Homo sapiens: one gene and its partner. The protein of the gene in region 1 purifies or fractionates together with the protein of each later gene. This does not show direct contact. Each region holds a gene or a part of one and is shown in the gene's direction. Other genes may lie near its edges.

Evidence for each region.
Region 2: the proteins of CFAP77 (region 1) and TUBA3C purify together in Homo sapiens (affinity purification with mass spectrometry, with the first as the bait; 3 studies listed by BioGRID). This does not show direct contact.

What each region holds. Positions count from the first base shown.
Region 1 is NC_000009.12:132,567,027-132,570,683, forward strand, and holds part of CFAP77 (cilia- and flagella-associated protein 77), read left to right. Parts: intron 1-3,657. UniProt on the Homo sapiens protein: Microtubule inner protein (MIP) part of the dynein-decorated doublet microtubules (DMTs) in cilia axoneme, which is required for motile cilia beating.
Region 2 is NC_000013.11:19,173,272-19,176,048, reverse strand, and holds the end of TUBA3C (tubulin alpha-3C chain), read left to right. Parts: intron 1-1,889; coding exon 1,890-2,186; 3' UTR 2,187-2,277; downstream 2,278-2,777. UniProt on the Homo sapiens protein: Tubulin is the major constituent of microtubules, a cylinder consisting of laterally associated linear protofilaments composed of alpha- and beta-tubulin heterodimers.

The sequences.
Region 1 (3,657 bases):
GGCCACGAGCAGACCCTGCTTCATAGAGGAGGAGCCCTTCCTTGAGCTCCCTTCTGGGATGAATTCACTCCGTGAGATTCCAGTTGGAATGGGATGTCATCCACATCAGACACCACAGGTGACATGCGCTCTGCCTCTCCCAGTGTCGGCACACAGCAGGTGCCAAAATGTGTGTGGTTAGTCATTGGGAGGAGCCTCTTGTGCCCAAAACACCCCTTTAGAAAACCAAGGGGAATATGGAACTTGGAACTCTGAAGTGCAAGGGGTGTGTGCTTAGCAGCTGCTGGCACACAGTAGGTACTTAATAAATATTTTTTAGATGGATGGATGGATGAATGCTTCTGCTTCAGCGAAGTTTCTAAGTAAACGGCGACTGCGAAAAAGAAAATTTCTCACCATGGTTCTCCTTTTGTCCTTGTGTGGTTAGACTGAGCAGCTCCTTAGGGCTTCAATCCTCCAGCCACCTTCTTGGGGTATGGGATGAGTGGGTGCTGGTGAGCCTCCTGCCACCAGCAGGGCCAGCCACAGCCCCACCCACCATCGCTGCATGCTGATTTGCCCAGGGAATGGCTTGAGGGCTGTATTAGCTTCTAGAGGCTGCTATAACAAATTGTCACAAACCTTGGTGGCTTAAAACCATAGAAATGTTTGTTTTCACAGTTCTGGAGGCCAGACCAACAAAATCAAAGTGTCGTCAGGGCCACATTCCCTGGAAGGCTCTAGGGACAATCCTCCCTGCCTCCTCCAGCTCCTGTGGGCTCCCGATGCTCCTTGGTTGTGGCCACATCGCTCTCATCTCTGCCTCTGTCTTCACATGGCTGTCTCCTCTGTGTCTTCTGTTGCTACTAAAGATGCTTGTGATTGGATTTAGGGCCCATCTGAATAATCTAGGATGATTTCATCTCGAGATCTTTAATTATATCTGCAAAGACCCTGTTTCCAAATAAGGCCACATTCTCAAGTTCTGGGGGTTAGTACATGGACCTATCTTTCTGGGAGTCATGGTTCAGCTCACTACAAGGGCCGAGGAGGAAGGAATGGACAGGGCTGAGAGGTGGTCTGCAGAGCTATACTCCCCTATGAAGAGCCATGGGCACCCAGAGAAGCAGAGAGAAGCAAGGTGGCTGCCAGGGACTTGGAAATGGGAGCTGCTATTCAAGGGGTATAGTTTCATTTACGCAAAATGAATACTCTCTAGAGACCTGCTGTACAACGCTGTGCCTAGAGTTAATAATAGTGCATATACAGCTGGGCGCTGTGGCTAACGCCTGTAATCCCAACACTTTGGGAGGCCGAGGCGGGTGGATCACCTGAGGTCAAGAGTTCCAGACCAGCCTGGCCAACAAGGAGAAACCCCGTTTCTACTAAAAATACAAAAAATTAGCCAGGCATGGTGGCAGGCGCCTGTAATTCCAGCTACTCGGGAGGCTGAGGCAGGAGAATTGCTTGAACCCGGGAGGTGGAGGTTGCAGTGAGCCGAGATCACACCATTGCACTCCAGCCTGGGCAACAAGAGTGAAACTCCGCCTCAAAAAAAAAAAAAAAAAAAATAGTGCGTATACTATACTGTGCACTTGAAAATGCTGCTAAGAGATCAGATCTCATGTTAAGGGTTCCCACCAAAAAAATCTCCAATAAACAAAACAGCAAAAAACCAACTGGGCATGAGGAAGCTTTGGAATAGATTTTTTTTTGGAGACAGAGTCTCTGTCCCATAGTCTGGAGTGCAGTGGCATGACAATGGCTCATTGCAGCCTCAACCTCCCAGGCTCAATCAATCCTCCCATCTCAGCCTCCCAAGTAGCTGGGACTATAGGCATGTGCCACCATGCCTGGCTAATTTTTGTATTATTTGTAGAGACAGGGTTTCACCATGCTGCCTAGGCTGGTCTCTAACTCCTGGGCTCAAGCAATCCACCTACCTTGGCCTCCGAAAGTGCTTGGATTACAGGTGTGAGTCACCTTGTCTGGCCGTTGATGGCTATTTTTGATTGTAGTGATGGTTTCAGGGCTATTTGCATATGCCCAAACTCATCAAATTTTACACATTAAATACAGGTTTTGCAGGTTAGGTAGATCAATCATACCTCAACAAGGCTGTTACAAATATCTTTCAGAAAAGTAAAATTAATTTTGGGAGGCCAAGGGAGGAGGATCACTTGAGGCTAGGGGTTCCAGACCACCCTCAACATATTGAGACCCTCCCCCCATCTCTACAAAAAATTACAGAAATTAGCTGGGCATGGTGGCGCACAGCTGTAGTCCTAGCTACCTGGAGGCAAGGCAGGAGGATCCCTTGAGCCCGAGAGTTTGAGGCTGCAGTGAGCCATGGTTGTGCCACTGCACTCCAGCCTGGGTGACAGAGTGAGAACCTGATGGGGGCGGAGGGTGGTAGGGGGGAAAAGGAAAATTCTTATAGTGACATTGTAACAACATGGATAGTTGTTTTCACATACTAAACATTTTGCAAAGCTGAATATAAATAGTTATTATTACTATTTGAAAAATATGCCTGTGTTCTAAAAAACAAATGAAAAGACACCATTGGTGACTGGCCACCAGAGACAGCACAATTGCCAATCTGGATGCCACTGAAGGCCAGGGGTGCCTCAGGTCCAAGCCGGCTGGACACCAGGGTGGCTGCATGCCCCCGAGACCCCAAGGTCTGATGCACCTGTCTTCCTAAGTGTCTCTAGCTGCCCTTTTTTTTTTTTTTTTTTTTTTTTTGAGACGGAATCTCGCTCTGTTGTCCAGGCTGGAGTGCAGTGGCACAATCTCGGCTCACTGCAACCTCCGCCTCCTGGGTTCAGGCGATTCTCCTGCCTTAGCCCTCCCTGTAGCTGGGACTACAGGCACCCACCACCACACCCAGCTAATTTTTGTATTTTTAGTAGGGATGGGGTCTCGCCATGTTGGCCAGGCTGGTCTCAAACTCCTGACAAGTGATCCGCCCACCTTGGCCTCCCAAAGCACTGGGATTACAAGTGTGAGCCACTGCTCCCAGCCTCTAGCTGCCTTTTAGGAGCCATGGGCCTCAGGAAGATCGTGTCACAGTGTAAACATCAGGCCACCACTTGCCAGAAGGTCACAAAGGTGTCACTAGAAGCCCTTTGTCCACAGACTATTTTCCTCCTGCACACTGTGCAAGGCCTTCTCTCTTCTCAGTGTGTCTTGTGAGGCTACTTGGACATTTTTCCGAAACATTGAGATTGAGCTGAGGGCACAATCATGGTTTGATTGATGGAGATCAGTTGCACAGCAGACATGCAGCCCTGGGTCCAGGTGGGCACTGGGTAACTATGCTACGCGCTCTGACCTGAGGGGCTCAGTAGCTTTTGGGCTGGGCTCAGGCCTCTCCCTTGGTTGCAAGAGCCCCAATGCGATTCTGAGGCAAAACCAAAAAATCTGAAACCCGAGGCTGGGGCTGGGACTACGACTGGTGCTGCGGCTGGGCTGAGGCTGGACAGCTCTGAGAAATGCTGCCATGGAGGGTCCCTAGAGGGACTTGCAAAGGGCCCTGAAACCTCCTAAATCACCTGCACTGTTTTTTATGTAAGCACTTGTGGGCATTTTTTTTTCCCAGAGGAAAAGGGCCCATGGCTTTCCAAAGAGCATCCCCAAGGGGTCCACATCCGCTAGAAGGTGAAGAACATGGTT
Region 2 (2,777 bases), on another chromosome or scaffold:
AAAATTGGATGGGCATGGTGGCCCATGCCTATAATCCAGCACTTTGGGAGGCCAAGGCAGGCGGATCACCTGAGGTCAGGAGTTTGACACCAGCCTGGCCAACAGGGCAAAATCCCGTGTCTACTAAAAATACAAAAATTAGCCGGGTATGGTGGCGGGCACCTGTAATCCCAGCTACTGAGGAGGCTGAGGCAGGAGAATCACTGGGACCCAGGAGGTGGAGGTTGCAGTGAGAAGATATCACTCCACTGCACTCCAGCCTGGGTGACAGCACAAGACTCTGTCTCAAAAAAAGAAAAAAAGACAAGATCATACAAATTCTAGGCCTTACAGGTTACACGACCTCTGTCACACCTACCCCACTCTGCTGTCGGATAGCAAAATCAATCTGCAAATGAAGGGGTGTGGTGGCTGTGTTCAGACAAGATCTTACAAAATTAGGTGGCTAGTCCAGCAGCTGTGCTAACCCCTGAAGGAGAAGAAGAGACACCCACAGTAGGAAATCCCAGTCAGAACTGACTGCAGTGGTCTCCCCCAACAGAGACGGTGGGGGTCTGAGCCAGAGGCAGCAGGGAAAGCACAGCACAAGAACGCACAGGCCCAACAGAGAAATGCCACAAGATTTAGTAACCAACTATTGATAAAGCTGAAAGAGGACAGCAAGGTTTCTTTTGTGTCAGTGGAAGGTGGGGACAGATTTTGTGTCTGAGGCAAACCCAGGCCAAAATTACTAGGCTTCCCGGAAAAGAAATAAAGACGTTGCTGCTTTTTGTTTTGTTTTGTTTTGTTTTGTTTTTGAGACGGAGTCTTGCTGTGTCGCCCAGGCTGGAGTGCAGTGGCGTGATCTTGGCTCACTGCAAGCTCCGCCTCCTGGGTTCATGCCATTCTCCCGCCTCAGCCTCCCGAGTAGCTGGGACTACAGGCGCCCGCCACCACACCCGGCTAATTTTGTTTTTGTATTTTTAGTAGAGACCGGGTTTCACCATGTTAGCTAGGATGGTCTCGATCTCCTGACCTCGTGATCTGTCCACCTCGGCCTGCCAAAGTGCTGGGATTACAGGTGTGGGTCACCGTGCCCGGCCTTTTAATTTTTTTGAGACAGGGTCTTGCTCTGTCACCCAAGGAGTGGTAGGATCTCAGCTCATTGGAACCTCTGCCCTCCAGGCTCAAGCAATCCTCCCACCTCAGCCTCCTGAGTAGCTGGGACCACAGGTGCATGACACCATGCCCAGCTAATTTTTTTGTATTTTTGGTAGAGACAGGGTCTTGCCATACTGCCCAGGCTGGTCTCAAACTCAGTTCAAGAAATCCACCTTGGCCTCCCAAAGAGCTGGGATAATGGGTGTGAGCCACTGCACCTGTTGCTGTTTTCATCACAAACAACTCATTCTTTTTTTAAATCAAACCCTACATGAGACAGTGGAACGAATGATGTTGTGAAGCAGTTTATAGTAATGCCCAAGTTAAAATAAAATATATACACCACCTACAAGATTCCCCAAAATGCCCATAAAATTACTAAGTTCAACCTACCTTTTCCACATGAATTCTACCACCCAAGAAAGGGGCACAAAAATCCTTTAGAAAATACCTTATTCTTAAAAAAAAAAAAAAATGCTGGGCATGCTGCCTCATGACTGTAATCCTAGCACTTTGGGAGGCTGGGGTGGGTGGATCGATTGGGCCCAGGAGTTTGAGGCCAGCCTGGGCAACATATGTTGTCTGGAACTGTCACCCTGCCTGGCACAGAGAAGGGCTTAGTGACATTTGTGGGGTGAACTGAGAATTCTCCTGTTCACCTACAGGGTGTCTTCTTTTTGAGGAAAAGCAGCCACCATTTCCAGGTTTGATATAAGCTTCATGGACTGTTTCTTCCTCTTCTCCGGCAGGTGGGCATTAACTACCAGCCCCCCACGGTGGTCCCTGGGGGAGACCTGGCCAAGGTGCAGCGGGCTGTGTGCATGCTGAGCAACACCACGGCCATCGCGGAGGCCTGGGCTCGCCTGGACCATAAGTTCGATCTCATGTATGCCAAGCGGGCCTTTGTGCACTGGTACGTGGGAGAAGGCATGGAGGAGGGGGAGTTCTCTGAGGCCCGCGAGGACCTGGCAGCTCTGGAGAAGGATTATGAAGAGGTGGGCGTGGATTCCGTGGAAGCCGAGGCTGAAGAAGGTGAAGAATACTGAGGGGAGGGTGTGGTGGGTTCTCCACTCCACTGCCACCCCCAGCGTGGCTGCTTTCAAGTTCTTTGCAATTAAAGGTTCTGTATAAAACCAAGACCTCTGTGTATCGTACTGCCTAGCTTTGCCTGCAGGAGCAGGTGGGACCCCCAGAGCCTGCATGGACAGTGGTGGGGTGCCAGCCTGCCCTGCTAGCATGGAGTTGGGTGCAGCGGGATGGTACATACTTAAGGAGCTGCCACAGAAGTAACTTGACACGGAGAAATAGATTTCCTAAATTCTAGGAAAGCACAGTCAGGGTTTTCAACTGAATTTGCAACTTTGGGGGCTTTTCTATTGATGGGTGATGCGAGCTACAAAGAAGAGTCTAGACATGGAGTGTTTAAATCTGAGGTCTGTGGATGGGGCTTGTCCATGAAATCCCTAAAGCTGTGGGTCAAATGTGTAAGGTCAGGACATTTTAGAAGGGAAAGAGTGTTACTGTGTTCTGCACAGCATTCGTGACCCATAGAAGGTTACAACACACCCAGCCTTCCACAGTAACCTGGAAGACAGCATTTGCCCTCCGTGCACACACACGGCCACTCTGCCCCTCAG